Regions from separate parts of the Homo sapiens genome. Here all the other regions are reported to be linked to region 4. The links are microRNA targets in miRTarBase. Many come from high-throughput screens and were not tested one by one. Region 4 holds a microRNA gene; each other region holds the end of a gene's coding sequence.
What was found. The annotated mature microRNA hsa-miR-4316 reads GGUGAGGCUAGCUGGUG and lies in region 4 at 2,868-2,884, shown strand. An mRNA with a match to its seed (bases 2 to 7 or 8) in the 3' UTR can be bound and repressed. Matches are read on the target gene's strand: a 7mer-m8 pairs with bases 2 to 8, a 7mer-A1 pairs with bases 2 to 7 and ends in A, and an 8mer does both.

Region 1 (4,090 bases), not on the chromosome of region 4:
GATATGATCCCAGAAATTAAGCCTTCTGCTGCTTTTCTTATATTACCTGAACTGAGGACAGAAATGGTCCCAAAAAAGGATGATGTCTCCCCAGTGATGCAGTTTTCCTCAAAATTTGCTGCAGCAGAAATTACTGAGGTGAGTACTTTTATGGAGTAAACTGTGCTACTAGCTTTAGGATTTCCCTCATAGGTCCTAGTTGCAGTATCCCATTTATAACAAGCAACATGCTATTTTCCTAGTCAAGTCAAGCACAAAATTAACAAAATCAGTTTCTATCATTGGTATCTATCTTTCCTTCCCCCAGAAAAATGTAGCAATGCTTAGTTTGTTTAATGAGCTATTGTAACCTTTTTATTTGAAAAAGAAAAAAAAGGGATTAAAATAAGGATTTGGTGTCATCCACACTGATTTTTACTGGATTTTATGGTTTTTGAAAAGCTATTTTCCAGTGCCATGGTTTTGTAATCCTACTTTTCAACTTTCTGTTAGAGCTCTAAGTTATTTTACTTAGTACGAGGTAGTGTTTCTGGCATCAAAAGATAAATTTTAAATTCCTGCTTTTTCAAATTTGCGTATGATTTTTGCATATGATTTGTTTCAGTGGGTTCTTGGTGTGCTTTATTTTGTTGCAGGGAGAGGCTGAAGGCTGGGAAGAAGAAGGGGAGCTGAACTGGGAAGATAATAACTGGTGACAATAGATGTGAGTTAAACTTTAGGAAAAAGGATTCCCTTTTTTTAAAAAAAATCAATACCTCAAAAGCAGGCTTTGGGACAAGAAAACCCCAAAGTGGCCTGCTTTTCCCATCCCAGGAGCTCATTATCCAGTCTGTGCCAACTGAAGTAGGAGACTGACTGTGAGTGCTGGCTAAAAGCCCTGGGTGGTGAGGCTCACAGTACTGGTTTCCAGGAGGAAGAGCCTTTGTGCATTTGACTGAGGCCAGTTTCTATGAAGAGCAAGTAGCTGAGGAGAGGTCGAATTTACTGCTTTTTCCAGGACAATTCTGGAAGTAAAGAAAATGTAATTCAAGCTGGTTAGCTTAATTTTGTGCCATTCTTTAACATAAGAGTAAGCTCTATTATGAAATACAACTTTAAAAAATTTTAGCTATAAATTATATAAATGATTTTAAATTGCTGAGGTTTCCTTAGGCAGCTTATTTATTTGTTTACAGTTAGACTATCTGAGTAAATGGTTCTTTGTGGACCTAGGCAGTTCCTGACTGTTCCACATGTAGTACATTGTACCAAAGTTCTTAATAAGAATATTCCCCACAATCCTGTTCTCTAAATGTCAAATAAAGATTATTTTCACTAGATTCAACTTTACAAAATTTGTTTTATATCTGTTAGAAAATGTACAGACATAAGTATTTTCAGTTGACAAAGCATCAAACCCAGTTCTGCCTAGTGATAAGTTTCACCCTAGAGTATGTATGTAACGTTTTAGCTTATCCATCCTTTCTTGGAGCGCCTCCATTTCCATTGAAAGCCAGGCTGGAGCAGGACCCTTTTGGAGTAGTGACTCAGTTGCTTCCAAAGCCCCTGCTATTGTATGCAGCGCTGACCTGTACTCTTCTTCCCAGGGGAACTCCTGACGAGCTCTTTTTGCATAAGGCTGGAAAAAAAACATAAGTAATATCACAATATCCATTCTAAATATAAAGAACCTTCCTTTTGGACTGGAGTAAAGCTTACATGCAAATTTTATTCTAGTCATTGGATCACAAGGGTAGGAGGATGCACCCCAAAACCCCTACACAGTCATCTAGAAAAATATGTAAAGGCATTTTGGTTTATCATAGCAATTCAGAGTGCTACTACCAGTGTCTTAGTTTGTATGTGGTATACAACAAGTATCCTGTCCCAAAGGGCTCCCAATGAGAAGTGCTGCATAGTCCAAGCTTACATGTCTTATAAACAAGTTCATAAATGTATTTTCTTTTTATGAGAGTTTGACTAAAACTTATCAGAATGTTGTTCTTCATGAATTACTACTATACTAATTACTATACTAATAGTGCTCAAAACAATATTTTGAATATCCTTATTGGTGTCAAATTCTGCCTTTTAATAAGTAGATGTGATCTTCAGTTACTGCCAAAAATTATTAGGAGACTCATTTGATTAATAAGGCAAGGAATCAAACTAAACATTTAGGAGTAAGTTTCTTTCATTTTCTTCTGTGGTTCAGTAAAGACTGCATTTATAGCATCACTGGTACAATATGTAACTTCCCTTAAAGGTTACTACCAATAATTCAAACATACTGAAAGAATATATTTGATATGGTGTAGTCCCACTTCTTAATTTTAAAAGCAACTACCATAAAACAGAATTTTACATGTCTAGATCTATTTGATTTGAAATTCAGCATAAGGCTGGAAACCACACTGGTTTGTTTCGTCAGTAAGTAAAAAGGGCAGAATTTGCCTTGTTAAAGTTTGGCCCCTATTGAAATCAGCCCATACCTGTAAAGATGACCTCTTTGCTTCTTCTACAGTCACATTAGCAAAGGGTTCCCAGAAAATACCTTTTTCCTGTTTCACACGTTCCACTTTGGCAGCTTCAGTTTCATCTACAAACCCAGTCTGCCAGGGACCATGAAAAACCAAGCAAATAGCAACATGTTAGCACTCTACTAGATATGAAATGGCCACATAATTTAAGTGCTGAGTGTTCAACCATACTAGGCAAATTCTGGAAGTCACATGGACTGATCTATAAATACTCTTAGTATAATCTGGATTAAATCACTCTACTGTGTTCTTCCTTACAAAATAGTTAGTTATAGAGTTGTCTTTGCAGGAAAAAATGATAGTCTGCTAACCTTTACTGTATAAGCTAAGAAACTGGCAACAGCAGTGTATACACATGTACTTAAAATCCAGCTTAGATGTAATATAAGTAGGCCAAGTGTGGTGGCTCATGCCTCTAATCCCAGGACTTTGGTGGGAGGAATGCTTGAGCCCAGGAGTTTGAGGTTATAGCGAGCTATGATCACACCACCACACTCCAATCTGGGCGACAGAGCGAGACTCTGTCTAAAAAATAAAGTTCAGTGAGTCAAGTGGGCCCATTTCACCTAAAAAAATATATATGTAATATATGTAAAATATATAACGTGCATCATTACATGTAATATATCAAATAATTCAGTTTCTCCTGGTAGTCTAAATTTGTGGTTTAACAGTTCCACTAGTATTTCAATTAACTATTATTTCCTCACACTAAGTTCCCAAGTATGCATAGACATAGGAACCTTGTGATTCAAAATTTTGGTTTTAATTGTAAAAACAGGTCTTGGCTGCAAAGAGAATAAAAAAGCCATGCCAAAAAAAAAAAAAAAAAAAAAAAAAAAAGGGCCCTGAGCTTACCCTGGCTTGGGAGGCTGCCCAAATAAAAAAAAAAAAAAAAAAAAAAAAAAGCCATGCCTAAATTATACCCAAAATATGGTAGTAAACATCCTCTCAGGCCTACCTAATTATGTGATCAAGTGTATTTAATTATGATTATTAATAGCTTAGGGATCCTCATTAGTCATCTCACTGCCTGGATAATCAGTGCTATTACACCCCAAACTACAGGCAGAGGAACTACAAGTGTCCTTTTTTGAGACAGTCTCACTCTGTCGCTCAGGCTGGAGTGCAGTGGCATGATCTTGGCTTACTGCAATCTCTACCTCCCCAGTTCAAGCAATTCTCCTGCCTCAGCCTCCCGAGTAGCTGGGACTGCAGGCGCGTACCACCATGCCCGGCTAATTTTTGTATTTTTAGTAGAAACAGGGTTTCCCCATGTTGGCCAGGCTGGTCTTGAACTCCTGACCTCATGATCCACCCACCTTGGCCTCCCAAAGTGCTGGGATTACAGGCATGAGCCGCCGCGCCTGGCCCCAAGTGTTTTACTTCTGTGGCCTCAATTGCTTAGTAAAAGTCGTCAGCACTGTGCTCAGCACTGTGAAAAGTTTAAGCTAAGAAGACACTCAGGTTGGTTACAGTTACATAATTTCGGAAAAAAAAAAATAGGACAAAGAATAAAACATGAGCCATGTAAAGAAAGTACCTTCTCCAGAAAGGATACAACTTTGTTC
Region 2 (4,090 bases), not on the chromosome of region 4:
CCAGCCCAGTGCTGAAGTCTGGAATGAAAACAAGGAAAGAAGAGAAAAGAAGGACAGACATCCCAGTAGGAAAAGTTCTCATCACCGCAAGGCAGGTGAAAGTCACCGCAGGAGAGCGGGGGACAAGAATCAGAAAGCGTCTTCCCACCGGTCCGCATCTGGCCATAAAAACACGAGAGATGACAAAAAAGAAAAAGGGTACAGCAACGTAAGGGGCAAGCGACATGGCTCCTCTCGCAAGAGCTCCACCCACAGCTCCACCAAAAAGGAGTCGAGAACAACTCAGGAACTGGGGAAGAACCAATCTGCATCTAGCACAGGAGCTTTACAAAAGAAAGCCAGTAAGATCAGCTCTTTTTTAAGGAGCCTCAGGGCCACTCCTGGTTCAAAAACAAGGGTCACATCACATGACAGAGAGGTAGATATCGTGGCTAAGATGGTGGAGAAGCAAAACATAGAGGCCAAAGTGGAGAAAGCCCAGGGTGGCCAGGAGCTGGAGATGATCAGTGGCACTATGACATCCGAGAAGACGGAGATGATCGTCTTTGAAACCAAATCCATTTAAAGAGGAGCCAGGGCTACAACCGCCCAGGGATCTGGAAGTATCCCTAGAGGAGCCCATCCCAGCTTTCTTTACTGCAGTTCAAATAATAAAGGAAATCGTACAACTCCAAAAGAAATACAATCTCCTGCTTGAATTTTTCTGCCCATAGCCTGGTGGTGACCTCACAGTGGCTTCTGTGATGGTGGCTATGCTACAGCTGGAGACCCCAGCCTCCAGGCAAGTAGAGCTCCACCACCCGCCCACGGCCAGCAGAGCCAACGTGAGTGTTCAGCTTTGCCTCAATCCCTTTTGCTTCCCCGAGACTGTCAAAGCCACAGACTAAGAGCTGGGATGCATGGCCACCACCATGTCCCCTCGCCCATTCTCCTCTTTTCCCTGAATGCCCCTGAACATGGACATTCAGTCCAGTTCTTAGCCTATGCAGAGACAGGATTCACATCCCCTCAGGGGATATTCAGGGTAGGAAGGAGCAATACAGCAGTATTTGTAGGCAATTAGAATAGGAAATCTATTCTTCTAGATCAGGAATTGGCAAATCATGTTCTGAGGTCCAAATCTTACCAGCTGCCTGGATTTGTAAATAAAGTTTTATTGGAACATAGTCACAGACTTTCCTTTGCATATTGCCTATGGCTGCTTTCACGCTAAAAATGACAGCTCTGAGTAGTGGCAATGGAGACCATATGGCCCACAGAATCTAAAATATTATCTGGGCCTTTAAGAAAATGTGTGCTGACTCTTGATCTAATCTTAACAAGTCTTCCTCCAAGGTGTAGACAGTGGAGAAATTCTCACATATGCTTACCAGTAGACAACTAGGAGAATGTTTACAGTAAAACAAGTTGTAATAGCAAAACCCTGGAAATTGCCCAAATGTTCATCAAACAGGAGAGTTAATAAATTGTGGAATGGACTACAGTGCATAATCTACAATAGTGAAAATGAATAGCAGCTATACATGTTAGCATTGATAAATGTTTATTTTTTATTTTTTTGAGACAGAGTCTCAGTTTGTTGCCCAGGCTGGAGTGCAGTGGGATAATCTTGGCTCACTGCAACCTTGGCTGCCCAGGCTCCAGTAATTCTCATGCCTCAACCTCCGGAGTAGCTGGGATTACAGGCATGCACCACCATGCCCAGCTAAATTTTTGTATTTTTACTAGAGACAAGGTTTTGCCATGTTGGCCAGGCTGGTCTCGAATTCTTGACCTCAAGCAATCCGTCCTCCTCGGCCTCCCAAAGTGCTGGGATCACAGGCATGAGCCACCATGTGTGGCTGGCATGGATAAATCTTACATAATGTGGGATACTAAAAGCAAGTCACAAAAATATATATGATATAGTTCAATTTGTAGAACAGCTCAAAAATAAGATTCAACAATGGGATATATATTTGCTAAAAGTATAGAGAAAAACAAGGAAATGATAATCACAAAATTAAGGATAGTGACTATCTATAGGATAAAGGGAGAGATGTCTGATCTGAGGGGCACACACAAGGAGTTTCAACAGAATAGTGATTATTCTATTTCTTAAAGAAGAGGTTGTATTCATGGGGTGTTGTTACTGTATCTTTATTTTAATATCTCTGAAATCAGGATTGTTTTTAAATCTGTCAGCAAGGTGTCAATTGCATGTCACTATCACTGCCTTAGAAATGCCCTAATCAATTTATTTCACCAATGTTTTCCTTTTTACACATACACATGACAGATTTATGACAGAATATCTAAGTCTGAAAGATCTTTCAATAAGCATGAAATAAAAATTCTAAGTGACATAAAAAGTATTCAGAAACACGGAAAAATGTTTAAATATATTAAGAAGTAAAATAGTCCAAAATGCTGTGTACTAACATGATGTAAATTATGTGTTCGTGTGCAAGTTAATTCCCAGAATAAAAAAATCACACTACATTAGAAATGGGATTATAAATTTTAAAAACCTTTACTGTAAAAAAAAATTGTCTTTCCGTTTTTAAAAAACCTGTAAAATGAGTCCATGGAAAACATTAAATTATTAACACCAAATAATAAAATTTGGATTTGAGAAAAATGATTCTGGGAGCCATGTAAGTCCAGGAGGGGAGCACCTGCCCAGCCTTGCAAGTCTTTGCTCATTCTCTGCAGCAGCAGTACCTTGGAGGACAGAAGTTGGGTTTCCGGCAAAACTTAGGGACCTTTTCTGAACACCAAATATGTGTAGCCAAGATGGAGGAGGTGAGAAGCGACGTATTCTGGGAGGAGCGGTGGCTTGTCAGTATCAGGGGAATCCCTTCTCAGTTGCTCTAGTGGGTGGCTGGAAAATCTCATCTTGTGATTTTTGATAAATACCATAGAGGCTGAGATTAAGATGTTCTGGGAGTTGACTCTTGAAACAGTGGGTACAGGTAGAAGGAGAGAGAAAGAGAGAGAGGCACATACTCTAAAGTCTGAGAGGGCCTTTGGGAAAGCCACCCGGGAATGTGAAAGGTTGGCAGGTGGGGTAGAGGAGAGAGATAAAAGGAAACTCCTTTCAAAGCCTTTGGTCTGGAGTTCCAGGTTTACAGCTATGCCAGAGTCTGAATTATCCTAGCTACAAACGGTTTAATCTCATAATTGTGTAGACTATGGCTTTATCTTTTGTCTTTCTTCTAGTCTTGTTTTATACACCCTCCCCTGTCTGAGGGCTTCTTCAGCATGAATATAGTTTATCCACCCAAATGCAATTTAAGTAAAGTAGAGATGGGGACTTGCCCACCACAGCGTGCTGTGCCATGCACTTTCTCTGCATTTCCTTTTCTATCTTGATACTTCATCAAGAGATAGATGCATAAATACCTATGTATTTCAAAGCAACAGGCCTCTTCCTCAGAGGGAGTTATCAATTGGGGCATCAAGTCAATACCCCTATCAGATAAAAGCCAATATTTTTAACGGCAATATTTGTCACCATGGTAACAATTCTGCTGCTGCAAGTGCAATGAGACAGTGGATGGTCGATTACTAACCAATGTTCCAAACTTAAAGTCTGGCATTACACACATAAGAACAAAGATGACAAAGCGATATTTTGCCAAAAGCAGTATAAGATCACTCATGCAGTTGTCATGTTAGGGTGGAGTCTTTGAAGCAGAGGAAACTGGTCTATGGTGAGAAGAAGCAAGGTGCCTCAAAATGTCAAATGCCATCATGGCTGGCAGGGCAAGAACGGAAGGCGAGATGCTAGAGGGAGCAGCAGGGGACAGACTGTGCAAGGCTTTGAGGTTCGCATATGCTACTTTGACTTCTGTCCTTAGTAATGAGAAGCCACTGAAACATTTTAAGTTGAGGAGTGACTTGATCAGATTTGTATTTTGTAAAGGTCACTGTAGTTGCTGTGAGAAAAAAATATTTGGGAAGGTAGTTGTTAATATGTGTCCTTATGTAATTCCTGTCTTTTGCTGCAGGATCTATAAAATGAGATTACAGGAGATGTTTTGAAAGACATGTTCCCATTAGAAATGTCCATGTGATGGCTGGGTGCTGTGGCTCATGGCTGTAATCC
Region 3 (4,090 bases), not on the chromosome of region 4:
AGCCATCATGCCCAGCCTAAAGTTCTTAATTTGAAATATAGAGCTGGTTTCTGGTTTCTTATTTGTGTTAAAGTTTAAATGACAGACTCAAAAGGCATAATTTTTTCAACAGAATCTTTTCCCAAGTTATATCACACATTAAAAATAAAAATAGTCATAATTCCTGATAATATTTTTACTAGTTTCAGGTTTTTGTAAGGAGATATTTATTTTTCCCAAGTTATATCACACATTAAAAATAAAAATAGTCATAATTCCTGATAATATTTTTACTAGTTTCAGGTTTTTGTAGGGAGATATTTATTTACATATTCTTCCAATTCTCTCATCAACAATTGAAAACCTAGATACGACTTGCTTTTTTGACTTGACAGAGTTGTATATATTTCTAAGGAAACGTAAGTGTATCTTTGTCTAATTACCATATGTAATGAACTTGCAACAAATCTAGTTAAAATCCAAAAGATGATCTATCAGAGCTATTGTGTTACTTCTAATGGGTATTATTGAAATAGATGTAGAAGGCATAATTGCTTTATAACTGCTTTGTGTACTGTCTTACAATATTCCATGTAATTTAAGACTACTGTTTGTTCTCTTTCTAGTGATAAAAAGTTGATTGCAGAAGGACCTGGGGAAACAGTATTGGTTGCAGAAGAAGAGGCTGCTCGAGTGGCCCTTAGAAAACTTTATGGATTCACAGAAAATAGACGGCCGTGGAACTATTCCAAGCCCAAAGAAACCTTGAGAGCAGAAAAGAGCATCACTGCCAGCTAGCCGCCATGGATGCAGCAGCCTGAAACTTGAGAGCGAAAGTGAGATAAATGTCAAAGGTGTTTCAAGCCAGACATTTTCACAATTGTGAAGAAATAGATGTTTTGTTTCTGTTTTTTACTGTGTTCCCAAAATTAAATAAGTGTTAACCAAGTCACAGTGTTTTTGGTTTTGTTTTTCTGAAATCTTGGTTTGATCAAATCTTTTTTTTTTTCTCTTGAGATGGAGTCTTACTCTGTCGCCCAGGCTGGACTGCAGTGGTGCGATCTCGGCTCACTGCAACCTCCACCTCACAGGTTCAAGCGATTCTCGTGGCTCAGCCTCCCTAGTAGCTGGGATTACAGGCACACACCACCATACCTGGCTAATTTTTGTATTTTTGGTAGACATGGGGTTTCACCAAGTTGGCTAGGCTAGTCTTGAACTCCTGACCTCAGGTGATCCACCCGCCTTGGCCTCCCAAAGTGCTGGGATTACAGGTGTGAGCCACTATACCCGACCAGATCAAATCTTTTTTTGACATTTTTGCAAAAAAATTTTCCTAATGTTCTTGATTTAATTGTATAGAATTTGTATAATTAGGTGTATTTTATTTGCGTCTAGCTTTGAGGTATCATAATTTATGTATCTTATGTGAATTTTTTGCTGTAATACCAATAAAGTTTTTTTTCTCCACATGTTAACATTGCATTTTAATTTGATATACCCAGTAATGGCAGGAGGTTGATGAACTTCGCTTCTGTAATACAATTTTAACTAAAATAGTAATGTTAAAACTCTTTGGGAAATGCATAGTACAGATTATAAGTAGGCAGCTATTTACATGATCCCTAAATTCTAAGTTTAAAATTATGTATACTTCTAGTATGTTTCTTATTCAATTTCTATTATAAATAGCAGGAAAAGGCAAATTTATGCTTTTCAGAAATTGCCTTTTCTAAGAAGTTGAAACTCAAAAACAGCTTAAAATGTTAATGGTGAAGGGAAAATAAAGCCAGTATTAGTTCAATTTAGTATTCTAGTCATAATAATAGTATGTACCAAGCAGTGTTGTAAGTATTGGAACACATTTAATTCAGTAGAGAGGTTTTGGTTTTCTAATCCTTTGTGGTCAGTTCAATAATCCCCTAACTGCAAATTCCTTTTGATTTATCATTTGTTAAAAACTTTGGCAACAGTAATTTTTAGTTTGAGTCTTCCATTAGTCACTCCCAGGGGTTAACAAGAATAGCAGGACCTACGAGTTGAGAATAGAAAAGAGGTAAAATGTTAAAACCAACAGTACATTTGCCATGAATTTATTTATTTATTAGACAGAGTCTCGCTCTGTTGCCCAAGCTGGAGTGCAGTGGCGCGATCTCAGCTCACTGCAACTTTCGCCTCCTGAGTTCAAGCGATTCTCCTGCCTCAGCCTTCCGAGTAGCTGGGACTATAGGTGCGTGCTACCACACCCAGCTAATTTTTTTTGTATTTTAGTAGAGACGGGGTTTCACCATGTTGGCCAGGGCGGTCTCAATCTCCTGACCTCGTGATCCATCCACCTCGGCCTCCCAAAGTGCTGGGATTACAGGCGTGAGCCACTGTGCCCGGCCTGACATTTTTTTATAAAGAAAGATGAAGGAACTTTGAAATGCCTTTCCTGAGCCTGGCTAGGAAAGTGGAACTTGAGTTATCTTACAGGGTTTATAGCTCCCAAAGGTAAAGCAGAGACTTTTTGGAGGGGAAAATTTGAAAAATTAACTAGTTGACTGAATTGGCAGGTTAAAAGTGAGTTAAAGTTGACCCTCGAACAACGTGGGTTCGAATTGTGCAGATCAGTATATATATGCAGATTTTCTTCTGCTTCTGCCAACGTGAGACAGCAAGACCATCCCCCTTTTCCTCCTCCTCTTTAGCCTACTCAGCGTGAAGACAAGGATGAAGACCTTTTTGATCATCCGTGTCCACTTAATGAATAGTAAATATATTTTCTTTGATTTCTTTAATATTTTTAGCTTTGTTGTAAGAATAAGGTTTATAATCTATATAATAAAATATGTGTTAATTGATTATTTATTAATATATCATCAGTAAGGCTTCCAGTCAGCCATAGGTTATTAGGAGTTAAGTTTTTGGGAAGTTTAAAGTTAATATACAGATTTACTGCTACATGAGGGGTCAACATCCCTAATCCCTGCATTGTTCAAGGGTCAACTATATTTTACCTTTTTTTCAGAGTTAACTTCAACTCCTAGTAATGGAACACAAGGATAGAGGACCAAAACCAGTGGTAAAATGCCATTTATATGTGTTACTCACAAGTAAACATGATTTGATAAGCATCTCATTGGCACTGTAGGAGAAAAGAGATTATATGACAAACTTTTCTGGAAAGCAAAAGACATGTCTTCTGACCACTTATCCAGCATCTGTGAGATGGCAGAATCTAGCTGTGGTATGATTCTAATTTTTTTTAAGGTAAACATTAAGAAAGTCTAGGGAATTCATTTGCAAACCCAGTAATCCTTTTCTTCCCCCTCCCCGCCCCCCCCCCCCCCCCGCTAAATAGTGCTGATTGTGCGTTCCCAAATTTCTCCTGCTCAGGGGAGTTTGCAGGACCTTACCCTGCAAGCTTAGAGGGGAACTATCCTTTTAGGTTTTCAAACTTTTAAACTTTGAATGCTTCCAAATTTACATGTGGGACAAGTCTGGCTCTAGTTCATAAAACTACTTTGCAAGTAGAGATCCATATGCCTTATGTAGAATGTAATTTCAACATATTTCTAAGTAAAGCCTTCTTTGAACTTAAATTGTTGTACTTTTTAAAAGCACCCTCTAAAATAGGGTAGAAATGTAGAAAATTTAGAAAAATTGACATACATTTTCAATTGCATATCAAATATAGCTTGAAATTTGGAACCAGTCTCTGAGTAGCTATTTGTCCTATGAGCCTAACTGCATAAGTATGATATGTGGGTAGAAGGAACATGTGGGTACAAGAATGTCATCAAATGGTGCATGTGACCAAGAGCATTCAGTGACCATGTGAAGGACTAGCTCTTTGACTAATGCCTCGTCCATGTTGAGAAGACAGTCATAAGACTGGAAGCACTGACATTTGAATTTAGGTTCACACCAGAGGAAGACATTAGTCATTTACTTTGAAATTCTGACTTTTTCCACCTTTTCCCACTCTCCAGTTCCCTGTGCCCAAAGTATAATTGTACCAAAAAAATCCTCTAGCCAAAAATGTAACATTAATGTCTACAGACTTAATTACATAACCCCTATTCTTTTAAATTCATACTCTTTATTATATGCATATGTATAATGAGGA
Region 4 (4,090 bases):
ATGACCTCTAGCTGATCACGTGGCCGCAGGGCAGCAGGACACTGAGCCCCAGAGTCAGGGGTGTGCCAGGTGTGGGCTCCCGACATGGTGTCCCTCTGTCCCTCTGCACCCTGCATGCAAACTGCTGGCTGTGTTCTGATTCTGCAGAAGCCCCAGGGCCCCAAGGAAAGGTTGAATGTCCACTTCTACCAGCCAGAAAGTCCAGGGTTCAATGCCCAGAACTGAATGTAATGAGATGGGCTTACCAAGCTCATCACATCTACACCCGCTTAAACCTGGGCTGTAAAGAATATTATTACCGCCCCCGTACAGATGGGGAAAGTGAAGTACGGGGTAGACACAGAGCCAGACTGTACATCGGGCTGATGCCAGAAAGTGCAGAGCTCAATGCCTGGGTCCTCGTGCGGTTCCCAGGGCCTCCCGCGGTCCTCTGATCTGCTCCCTGCCTCCTGAGCACTGTCCAAACTGTCCCCACATGGTGTGCCTCTGTCCTATGGGTGCTGTAGAGCAGGGGCCGGCTTCCAGGTGTCCTCAGCATCCTTCCGTGCGGTCAAGTTGGAGAACAGAAACTAGACAGGAGAAGGCCTTGTCCCAGGTCCAACCCAAGAAAACAAATGACCTTCCCTGGGAGATCCGGTGAACCCCCTCCTTGGGAGTCCCCTTGGAGTCACCCCCACCATGGCCAACTCATGATCGAAGACACTGCACCAAAGCAGAGGCTGCCCTGGTGTGAGCTTACGATTGAGTCTACGGTGCGGATGCAATGATTTATTCCAGCCAGGCCCACGTGCACAAGCGGATCATTCTAGAACCGGAGCTGGCCCCTCCCCTAGGGCACTCCTCCTTCCTCCAGTTGTCTGCGTGGCTGGCGCCTCACCACCTTGGCCATCTGCGCAAAATGCACATGTGTGCCGGTCCCCAACCATCCTCTCCTCTCTTTCAATGCTTGGTGTCTTTTCATGGATGGGTCCCTCCCTCCCCACTAGCTGGCCTCTGTGCTTACTGCCTGGCTCTATGATCCCTCTGGGTGTTTCGGTCCAGCACCACTCCCATGCCCACTAGCTCTCAGTAAGCTCTGAGACAGCAGGGGCTGTTCCACCCGCAGGGGCCACCCCACCATCAGGACGGCGCTGCTCAAAGGCGAGTTTGTTCTAGATAACAGCCAGGAGATCTCACAGCCTCCAGAACTGCAAGAGAATACAACTGTGTGCTAGAAGAACAGTGAGAACAGGAGGCGCCCCATTCCGGAGGTGTCCATCTTCCCCAGGAGATGCCCCACTCTGGGGGTGTCCATCTTCCCCAAGGAAACCATGTCCCGGCTGGAATGTCAAGAAGGTGACACCTAAATGAAGAGGTGCCCACCCTGGCTCACGCCATCCCCCCAAACGAGCATGCCACCGCCTCCTCCTCCTCTTGGGAATCCTCCTCAAAGCCAAGCCCACTCCAGCCCCCTTCCCGGGGAGCTGGCCTCCCACACAGTCCACACCACCCCCTCCCCATGTCATCCTGGCCACGTCATGACTGTTGAGATTGGCTACGAGGGGTGTGTTCCGGCTCCCCGGGAACAGAGTTGAATGTTCTCTACTCCATGACACCATGCCTTCACCAGGCCTCAGGCGCTTCTAGAAAACCTACTAAGCCAGGCGTGGTGGCTCACGCCTGTAACCCCAACACTTTGGGAAGCCAAGGTGGACAGATCGCTTGAGCCCAGGAGTTCAAGACAAACCTGGGCAACATGGCAAAGCCCCGACTCCACTAAACAATACAAAAATTGGCCAGGGGTGGTGGCATATGCCTGTAATCCCAGCTACTCGAGAGGCTGAGGTGAGAGGATCACTTGAGGCCAGGAGATCAAGGCTGCAGTGAGCCATGATCACACCACTACACTCCAGCCTGGATGACAGAGTGAGACTCTGTCTCAAAAAAAAAAAACAACCAAAACCTACTAAATGCCAGGCGTGGTGGCTCATGCCTGTAATCCCAGCACTTTGGGAGGCCAAGGCAGGCCCAAGGCAGGCGGATCACCTGAGGTCAGGAGTTCGAAACCAGCCTGGCCAACATGGTAAAACCCTGTCTCTACTAAAAACACAAAAAATTAGCTAGGCATGGGGGTGGGCGCCTGTAATCCCAGCTACTTGGAAGGCTGAGGCAGAAGAATCACTTAAATTCGGGAGGCAGAGGTTGCAGTGAGCCCAGATCGTGCCACAGTACTCCAGCCTGGGCGACAAAGCAAGACTTCATCTCAAAAAAAAGGCTGGATCACAGGATCACAGGATAGGCACAAGCCCTGAGGGAGCTCCCAAGGAGGAGGGACGCACTAGACCTTCACCCCCATTTCAGCCTGTGAAGATTCACTTTCGTCTGAGGTTCTGTAGAGGGTTGACTAGTGACCCCCAAAAAGACATGTCTAATACCTAACCCCAAGAACCCACGAATGTGACCTTATTTGGAAAAAGGGTCTTTGCAGATGTGATTAGGGATCCCGGGATGAGACTATCCTGGATTTGGGATGGGCTCTAAATCCAGTGCTCGGTGTCCTTATAGGAGAAAGGCAGAAGGGGACTTGGGACACAAAGAGACACGGTGGGGAGGGCTACGTGATGAGAGCAGAGACTGCAGATGCTGCCAGAGCCAAGGAGCGCCTGGGCCAACGCAAGCTGGAGGAGGCAAGGAAGGGTCCTCCCCTCGAGCTGTCGGAGGGAGTGTGGTCCTGCCAATACCTTGATGTCAAACTTGTGGCCTCCAGAACCATGAGCGAATCAATCTTTGTTGGGCCACTTGGTTTCCAGTAATTTGTTCCAGCAGCCCCAGGACACTCACAACGAGACCCCTGGGAAGATGAAACCCCTGGCTGCACAGTGGCCCAGGGTGAGGCTAGCTGGTGTGGTCACCCACTCTCCAGCCCAGCCCCAATCCCACCACAACCACATTCGACAAATGGCCCACTGTGGGCCAACGGACACGTGGCCATTCCAGAGCTGCCACATCAGGAGCCCAGAGGAGCGAGAGCTGCCTCCTTCCCCCTTCTTGGAGTCGCACAAAAACCCCAGATGGTTGGAGAAGTCATCGGAGGAATCACATCACTCTAGATTCTTGTTTCATTGCTGGGATATGTGGCAATGAAACAAGATCATCCCTGCCAGGGATGCCTCATGGGCAATTGCCTCCCCACGGAGGACATTGTGAGTTGTACCCAGCCGGGAAACATTAGGAGATGTCTGTCACCAGGCTGGCAGAACAGGGCTCCCCAGCATCTCCTCCCCCATCAGAGTCCTAAGACTGCGCCCTGGGTCCTGCAGTCACACACGGTCGCCCCTCTCTTCCCAATGTGCAGGCCTCCTGGGAAGCCCCCTGCCACCATCCTCACAGTGGAACCGGCATAACCTGCCCAGGGGTAGCAGGTCCTTGTCACTTTACACGTCTCCATCTTCCCTGTGGAGGGAGACGCAGCCAAGGGGTATCCACATTCACCCACAGAAGCGAGAGTGTTCGTGAGCTTGTCATTTTGCAGATTTTAGAACCCCGTACGTGACTGCACAGATCCACAGGCCCAACTGGGCAGATTCAAAGGACCCACGCAGCAGGGAGGAGCACCGGACAGCTTCCTCCTCTGTCTGCAAGGAGTTAATGCAACTGAAGGACACAGAAGAGGCTCCCAGCTGAGCATCACAACTGTGGACCGTGCACAGTGTCAGAAAGATGCGGAGCCAGGTCATGTTGGGAGGATCCCCATGCTGTCACTGGAAGGTAAAGCAGTGTCACCCCCCCACCCATAGAGCAGGAGGTTCCCACCTTTGCCAGCCATCTCCTTCATCTGTGAATTCAAGTCCCCTAAAGCCAGACTCCAATCTCGCAAGCTCCCAAAAGCCTCCCTGGGTCCCTTCTCCAATCCCCACCGATCTCAACTTGCTCCAAAAGCCTGAAGACCGTTCATGTGCTTTGGCCCACTTCTGGGAATTTATCCCAAGGAAATAATCAGAAGTACAGAAAGATTTACGTACGAGGACATTTGCATCAGCATTAAACTGACAAAACCTGGAAACAGTCCGGGTTTCCGCAGATTTTCTAAACCCATATGTCAAAGGCCTGC
Region 5 (4,090 bases), not on the chromosome of region 4:
CTATTTCTCTTAATTCCACCATAAGCTTTTCCCTTAAACAACTTGAAATTTACATAATCAACCAAGTATTCTCAGAGAAAGCCTCTAGAAGTAACTGTTTATATAGTAAATGTTATTAGGGTTATGAGGAAATCAAAAGCCTTCTGACAAGTCTATTTTACTGCTACATTTTATCTAAATTTTTTTGCCTTTTATTCCTAAGGGATGAGAGTCCAATGAAAGCAAACTTCCTTCAAAACATGATAGAAGACAGAACAGAATCTGCATTATCATATTATGAATTCCTGTTGCATATACAGCAACAAGTGAATAAATGAATGAATGAAGAAATTTGACTTATTTTTAAGGAATGTCACGATAGTGCAGAATACCTGGAAATGTGTAATACCTTCTTTTTCTATTATGTTTGTGGACTAATGTGATGATTGAGATGTTCTCACTGTGATTTCAACAACCTATAGCAAATAAAAGACCACAGCAGAGAATCAAACATGCAACTCTGAAATACTGTATTTTTCAAATCAGAATATAGCTACGTATGATTGGATACTTTTTTCTTGCCAATTATGTTTGAGTTGTTATGGATTAAAATAAGAATATTGCAGAGGCAAAGTACATTTTGTAAAATAAAGATTTCTGTGTTCTACATGTATATTTCTCATTTTTAATTTTTCTGAATCTTTGGCTGCTACATTTAAAACCTCACAAACCTAAGTGTTGCAGGGAAGTTACAAATTGATTGGTAGTGATGTTTTTAAAATAAAAACAATGGAAAGTAAATATAATGTAGGAAAACTAGAATTCATTCCCCACACGTGTCTTTTTTTTTTCTTTGTTAAGGGAAAGGATCATGTTGACTAAAACTAAACTAATTCTAGTATAGCTTGAGAAAAATATGAAGAAACACATTCAAGCTTTAAAATCTGTCAGTATTCTTTATGCTTGAAGAACAAAGTCACTTTGATTTGAAGTGAGAACTATCATTAGGTGGTTTTCTGATTTCCTGATGAAGAGTTGGACATACTGTCTTAATCTATAGTGAAAAGAATTTGAGCTGTCTTCATAAACACTGGGACTAGCAATGATAATAGGGAGATAAGAAACTTTAATTATCTTGATCCTTTAAGTGGATTTTATTTGGTGCATTTCTGCTCTGGGTATATAATAAAAGTGGGGGTTTTTGGTGAAATGAGTGAAGAAATGAAAGGTTTCTAAAGTGCTATCCAAATACATCAGTAACATTTTTCTAAGGAGTTTAATTGTTAAATTGGAAGTCATTCATAAGAAATATTTATGCTTGAATATGAAAATCTATGAAAGCATAAATGCTGCTGTTTGATTTGGTGGATATTAAGATTATACACATCCAACATATTAAAGTTATGAAAGAAACTTGACTTCTGAAAATCCTTAAGAGACTGCTTTCTTGATTCAGCTAGAGAAATATTATAGTCAAAACTATTGAGTGAATTTTGTTTACAAATAGGTAAATTATACATTTGTATATTTAAAGTGCTGTGACATAGTATCTTTAAGAGTTTGGCTCAGTTTTCACAGATTCATTTTGTCTTAAGAATTTCTTAAATATGTTCATGTATAATACTTGATCAAAATATTTTTGGGTTTTTTGTTTTGTTTTAATGGGTTAGAAAATGTTTACAATCTTGGTCTTATATGATCACCAATGGAATAGTAACTTCCAGGTTTATATCAATATGAGCTGACTTTAACTGAGTTGTTTGGGATAGGGAAGAAGCAGTCCCTCTACAGTATACAACTACTGCTTGCCAGCTGGATCAAAATAATCATGTTTTATGAAAATATCTCCCTTAAGCAGTGTTAAGGTTGGTTTGCAGTGTGTAAGTGGCACATTGAACTGGAAGTTTTCTTGAAAGCTGCTTCATCTATTAAGAAGCAATTTTCAAATTGTAGCGAATTATATTATCCCCTCTTTTAAAGAAACAGTCGTTATATGCTGATGTTTCTTAAAATAACTAAAATGTTCCTCTTAATGTGATTTTAAATGGAGTTATTTGTAGGTCCTTTCTTAGTAGTAAAGAATCTTCTAGAGGGAAACATTTGTGCTTTTAGGGATAATCTTCCTTGTGCCTCACTACATCCCTAAGTGGGTATGACTCTTGTTATTACCACATGCTTTTTTAGTATATTTCACAAATTTACTTTTAAATATTATTTTAGATACGGTGTAACATGTGCAATTCAGAATAATTTTATAACAGGTCATGAAAAACATAACTTTAGTTAGGATTCACAATATTTGTTCTCCACATAATGAGAGAATGAATGAGCCTTTGGAGATACTGATATAAGGCAATTATTTTTTGCAATGTTGAATGTGTTTTTTAGTTTGATTCTTTTTTTTTCCCCCAATAGGGCACTACCTGCCATATCATCTTGTATTACTTTTTGATGTAAAGCGACTAATATTTACACTATGCCATATTTTTTTTAATTATAGTTGTAAATTATGAAAGATCCTTGAATTTTCTACAGATCTACAACTACTAATGTAACAGACAAGGGCAATCTTGGTATTTAAATCTGAGCATGGCAGTTCTACCATAAAAAGTACTCTATTTTTCTAATTTCTAGGATTTTTAAAATAACATTTCTGTAAGTCTGACATACTAATAGTCACTCAAGCAGTACCATTTATTTTAGTTTGCATATATTTTCACTGTTTTTAATTTAATGTATTGAGTCTAATAGACTGTTTTGCAATAATTAGAATAAAGATTTATTTCTTCTAATCAAAGATGCATAACAGCTATTATCTAGGGGACCACCAAATGTGATTTCAAAATTTTGTTAACTATTACAAATGTAATCCTTATATAGAAATTTTAATTTTGTAAAGTAGTGTATAATATTGTAATATTAAATTCTTGTTCTTAAATTCAAATATGTATTGATCTTCAATGTGCTGTGTTAAATCTTGCTTCTCTGAAAAGTTGGAGACAAGATTTGTCTTCCTTTTTACAGTTTGTAATTTTCACTGTTTTATTCCTGTTAAAAAAAAAAAAAAGTCATTTGTAACCCATGCAGACCATTGTTTGATCTATGCTAACTTATCAACTTGGCTATTCAATAAAGTTAATTGAAAAGAGCTTATATATAGTGACTAGTTATTTAAAGTGATATGAGCCTGGTATGGTGGCCCACACCTGTAATCCCAGCAGTTTGGGAGGCCCAGGTGTAAGGATCACTTGAGGCCTGGAGTTGAAGACCTGTCTGGGCCAGGTGGCGAAAACTTGTCTCTACAAAATAGTTTTTAAAAGTAGGCTGGGCGTGGTGGCTCACGCCTGTAATCCTAGCACTTTGGGAGGCCAAGGCAGGTGGATCACCTGAGGTCAGGAGTTCGAGACCAGCCTGGCCAATATGGTGAAACCCCATTTCTACTAAAAGTACAAAAACTTAGCCAGGCATGGTGGCGCATGCCTGTAATCCCAGCTACTTGGGAGGCTGAGGCAGGAGAATCGCTTGAACCCTGGCCGAGGTTGCAGTGATCCCAGATCGTGCCATTGCACTCCAGCTTGGGGAACAAGAGCAAAACTCCATCTAAAAAAAAAAAAAAAAGTCCAGGTGTGGTGGCTCATGCCTGTAATCCCAAAACTTTGGGAGGCCGAGGCGGGCAGATCACCTGAGGTCAGGAGTTTGAGACCACCCTGGCCAATATGGTGAAACTCCGTTTCTACTAAAAATACAAAAATTAGCTGGGCATGGTGGCAGGTGCCTGTAATCCCAGCTACTTGGGAAGCTGAGGCATGAGATTTGCTTGAACTCGAGAGGCGGAGGTTGCAGGGAGCTGAGATCGCGCCACTGTATTCCGGCCTGGGCAACAGAGCGAGACTCCATCTCAAAAAAAAAAAAAGTGTAATCCCAGTAGAAAAAAGTGCTGTAATCCCAGCACTTTGGGAGGCCGAGATGGGAGGATCACAAGGTCAGGAGTTTGAGACCAGCCTGGCCGACATAGTGAAACCCCATCTCTACTAAAAATACAAAAAATTAGCTGGGCGTGGTGATGGGCACCTGTAATCCCAGCTACTTGGGAGGCTGAGGCAGGAGAATC
Region 6 (4,090 bases), not on the chromosome of region 4:
TTGTGATTGGTGGGTATTTGTTTGATTGGTGTGTATTGTGATTGGTGGGTATTTGTTATGATTGATTGGTGGGTATTTGTTGTGATTGGTGGGTATTTGTTGTGATTGGTGGGTATTTGTTGTGATTGATTGGTGGGTATTTGTTGTGATTGGTGGGTATTTGTTGTGATTGATTGGTGGGTATTTGTTGTGATTGGTGGGTTTCATGTGCTGGTCTGTGTACTTGTTCCTTCAGTGTTGATTTTGGGTTCTAACCTTACAACCTTTTTCTCTTTCATTTTTAGTTTCTTTTTGCACAGTATATGCCTGAATGGCTCTGGGTGTGGGGAGCAAATATTCTCAACCGTTCACTACGTAAGGAAGCCTTATCCTGCACAGCCTGAGTCTGGATGGCCACTTGAGAAGTTTTGCCAACTCCTGGGAACCTCGATATTCTGACATTTGGAAAAACACATTTAATTTATCTCCTGTGTTTCATTGCTGATTATTCAGCATACTGTTGATTCGTCATTTGCAAAACACACATAATACCGTCAGAGTGCTGTGAAAAACCTTAAGGGTGTGTGGATGGCACAGGATCAATAATGCCTGAGGCTGATTGACGACATCTACATTTCAGTGCTTTTTCCCTAAGCTGTTTGAAAGTTACGCTTTTCTGTTGTTCTAGAGCCACAGCAGTCTAATATTGAAATATAATATGATTTGTCAGGTCTTATAATTTCAGATGTTGTTTTTTAAGGGAAATTGACCATTTCACTAGAGGAGTTGTGCTGGTTTTTAAATGTGCATCAAGAAAGACTACTGAAAAGTATTATTTTGTAACTAAGATTGCTGGTACTATTAGGAAAAATCTGTGTGTATTGTATAGCTCTAGCTGTTTGACTATCTGTAATGAAAATGCTGCACTTCAACTGGTATTTCATTAGAGAACCGTGTGTGTGCGTGTGTGTGGTGCCTTTGAGCAACTTTATTTATGGTTACCATATTTTTAAAAAGATTTTTTGTCAGGGTGACTTAACATGGACTCTTATAGGGTATTAAAACAATCTAGATTATTCCTTTTCATCCTAAATAAGCCTACCAAATTTCATGCTGTTGGTTTGCCATGAATGATATTACTTCCTACATTATATTTGTGTTTTTTCAAATCTGCTATGGAATGAACTTATTCCTAGATTTGGATATGTAAGAGAAACCTGCAGTCATCTTTTGATTTATAAGGCAATTCTTGTGGATAAATAGTGATTTCTCAGCCTCTGACCCATTTTATAACTGAAATTTAGCCCTTTAGAGCTTGTTATATCTGGTTTTCCTACGTTTTTCTATGTAATATTATTCCATTCCAGTAGCATTATTGATAGAAATAGTAAGTATTTATGGAATAGTAAAATATGGACAAATTACGTGTGTGACATATCTGTCAATATAAGTTAGAAGCTTATTCTTGGTTTGTGTAATGAATTTATGTATTGTAGTGAATACCTTTACTGGTGTGAAGATAATTATGCACAAACCCTCACAATACGCGTTAACATTGAAACCTGTGAAATGTCCTTAGTTTGGGTCATATAAAGCCAACCATTTTTGAGGACCATGTACCTAGTGCTTTGAAAACTCTAAGTCACTATATGAATATGACAATATGTGCACATTTAAAATTCAGAGCTCGGCATTGTGATACTGATGCAGAAGCTAGTAGATTGGTTAAAAGTCTGGACTTCTGTGGCATTTTTTTCGTGACGTGATAATCTATCATAAGCAGACCTAAGCACAGTTTTATGAACACAATTTTGCCCATGACATTGCCTACAGGATTTCCAGATGTGACTTGCACTCAGAAGATCAGTGGTCAACTTCAGAAGCTCTTCCACGCTTAGATCATGTCTTCAGAACTTAGATGTGAAAATCTACACACTGGGAGATGCTGTGAGCCCCAAGGTTTTGATGGAGTTTGCTTGGAATCCTCTTGACTTCATGCCACATTGACGTGAACTTTGATGTATAATAAGCAGCAGCAACTTCATGTGAAAATATGGTCAGGTAGTTATATGTAAGGTTACGTGGTCCAGTAATGTCTTAGATTGATAAATTAGGTATGGAATCCATCAGTGTTACGTGATGAGAATAGGTGAACACACCTTGTCAGTGATGATGTAAACTTCTCTCCTTGGCAGGACATGGGCAAACATGCTGATTGGTGCAAATGTGGTGCCGAGCTGTCCATAGCTGCAGTGAAAGATGAAGAGCAAGACCTTCTCTAGGTTTTCTAGCTTTCATTAAATGTATTTTTTTCCCCAGAGCTAATTTGAAAGTTGATTGGACCACTGTGGATGGGGTGTCATTAAGAATGTGGGAAATAGGGGCCGAGTGCGGTGGCTCACACCTGTAATCCCAGCAGTTTGGAAGGCCAGGGCAGGTGGATCGCTTGATCCCAGGAGGTCGAGACCAGCCTGGGGAACACATCCTGTCTCTACAAAAAATACAAAAATTAGCCAGGCAGGGTGGTGCATGCCTGTAGTCCCAGCTACTTGGGAGGCTGAGGCAGGAGAATTTTTTGAGCCCAGGATGCAGAGGTTGAAGTGAGCCAAGATCGTGCCACTGCACTCCAGCCTTGAGACAGAGCGAGACCCTGTCTCAAAAAAAAAAAAAGAACGTGGGAAATATGAACCTTTGAAAGTTAATCTGTGAATTGAAAGTTTAACAATAAAAGTAGTTGTTTGTTTCCTTTGGAAGAGTTTTGTTCCAGATGTTTGTAATTTGGTTGTTTGTAATTTGGAATGAGAGAATTTTTTTTTCTTAGGAGTGATTGCAAGAAATTAACATGAACAACAGTGGTCATAACTGATTAAAAGCTGACACGTCAGTAACAAAATTGTTTATAACTATGTGCCTAGTCTTTGGAAGCTACTGGGTTGACTTCTGGATCTCTTTCTCTTGGTAGGTTGAGTAAGGTGAGGATTGATTTGAGCATGGAATTTGGCTGTGTGGATGGAGATCATTGGTGATTTTTTTCCATGAGCCATTTCAGTCTTCAGGCTAGAATTGTAATGGATTCAAGAAAGAGTGGGAAGAAGAAAAAAAGGGAAGAGAGCAGATAGAGACAGCTCCTAGGAGACTTTCCTGTGTTTTCCTATCCTCAATTACTTAAAATCTAATCACATTTGGGAACCAGAGGGTTAGATGGTTATGTCCTCAAAACCTATTCCAGTCAATTTATGTCTCAGTCTCAGTATTGGCTTATGTGTTATTTATCTTTTTAAAAATTCATATATGTTTAATGAGTATAAAGCCAAGCACAGGACAGTCGTGAATTCAGTAGAAATATTCTCTGTTATTCCTGGCCGCGTGCAGTGGCTCACGCCTGTAATACCAGCACTTTGTGAAGCCGAGGCGGGCGGATCATGAGGTCAGGAGTTTGAGACCAGCCTGACCAACGTAGTGAAACCCCGTCTCTACTAAAAATACTAAAATTAGCCGGGCGTGGTGGCGCGCCCCTGTAATGCCCGTTGCTCAGGAGGCTGAGGCAGGAAAATCACTTGAACCCGGGAGGCGGAAGTTGCAGTGAGCTGAGATCGCACCACGACACTCCAGCCTGGGAGACAGAGCAAAACTTTGTCACAAAAGAAAAAAAAAAAAATATTCTGTGTAATTCCTATGGTGAGACTGAAAGGGAAGGGAGGCAGCTCTAGAACCCACTCTGGAACGTGCACAAATAGAACTTCCACTTCCACAGCAAGCCCCCCTGCGAGGGCGATGTGCTCTGGCCAGCCCCGCACAGCGCCACTGTTGAGGGCGGGATGATGGTGCTGCAGGCATGGAGACAGGTGCTCCCGGGGGAGGGGGTGGGCAGGCTCATGGCCTTCCCGTGGCGTGACGTTGACACCCTTCTTCAGTAAGTGTTTGCTCAGGTGGTTGTGGAAATACTTAGGGGGGTGACCTCCATCAGTGAGTTGGATGGGAACACACAGTGGGGCAGGACTTGTGTCATCATGCTTTGTGGACAGTAGTTTCCGCTTATCCACAGTTTTGTTTTCTGAGGTTTCAGTTACCTATGATCAATCGAGGTCCGAAAATATTCAATGGAAAATTC

Region 1: miRTarBase lists SCYL3 as a target of hsa-miR-4316. Seed matches in the 3' UTR shown: 7mer-A1 at 3,224-3,230.
Region 2: miRTarBase lists GARIN3 as a target of hsa-miR-4316. Seed matches in the 3' UTR shown: 7mer-A1 at 725-731.
Region 3: miRTarBase lists MRPL44 as a target of hsa-miR-4316. Seed matches in the 3' UTR shown: 7mer-A1 at 1,063-1,069.
Region 5: the mRNA of SEC24A is a reported target of hsa-miR-4316. Seed matches in the 3' UTR shown: 7mer-A1 at 701-707 and 7mer-m8 at 2,108-2,114.
Region 6: the mRNA of HSDL1 is a reported target of hsa-miR-4316. Seed matches in the 3' UTR shown: 7mer-A1 at 1,515-1,521.

The regions. Positions count from the first base shown.
Region 1 is chr1:169,850,318-169,854,407 of GRCh38, reverse strand. SCYL3 (SCY1 like pseudokinase 3) reads left to right here. Exons shown (of 13, transcript NM_020423.7): 12 at 1-138; 13 at 636-4,090. The coding sequence ends at 695. FIRRM (FIGNL1 interacting regulator of recombination and mitosis) reads right to left here. Exons shown (of 25, transcript NM_001320047.2): 23 at 4,063-4,090; 24 at 2,472-2,591; 25 at 328-1,618. The coding sequence ends at 1,421. Among named protein-coding and RNA genes, the nearest start is that of SCYL3, 42 kb to the left of the region's middle.
Region 2 is chr5:157,158,922-157,163,011 of GRCh38, reverse strand. GARIN3 (golgi associated RAB2 interactor family member 3) reads left to right here. Exons shown (of 2, transcript NM_130899.3): 2 at 1-1,166. The coding sequence ends at 565. Among named protein-coding and RNA genes, the nearest start is that of GARIN3, 5.3 kb to the left of the region's middle.
Region 3 is chr2:223,966,258-223,970,347 of GRCh38, forward strand. MRPL44 (mitochondrial ribosomal protein L44) reads left to right here. Exons shown (of 4, transcript NM_022915.5): 4 at 606-1,457. The coding sequence ends at 777. Among named protein-coding and RNA genes, the nearest start is that of MRPL44, 11 kb to the left of the region's middle.
Region 4 is chr17:77,395,822-77,399,911 of GRCh38, reverse strand. It overlaps MIR4316 (microRNA 4316), which reads left to right and starts at 2,858; the gene lies at 2,858-2,928. The region is part of intron 2 of SEPTIN9 (septin 9); the gene reads right to left. RefSeq lists an enhancer at 1,267-1,985.
Region 5 is chr5:134,724,778-134,728,867 of GRCh38, forward strand. It overlaps SEC24A (SEC24 homolog A, COPII component), which reads left to right. Exons shown (of 23, transcript NM_021982.3): 23 at 203-3,132. The coding sequence ends at 317. Among named protein-coding and RNA genes, the nearest start is that of CAMLG, 12 kb to the right of the region's middle. RefSeq lists a silencer at 3,973-4,090.
Region 6 is chr16:84,120,923-84,125,012 of GRCh38, reverse strand. It overlaps HSDL1 (hydroxysteroid dehydrogenase like 1), which reads left to right. Exons shown (of 6, transcript NM_031463.5): 6 at 285-2,872. The coding sequence ends at 383. Among named protein-coding and RNA genes, the nearest start is that of MBTPS1-DT, 5.9 kb to the right of the region's middle.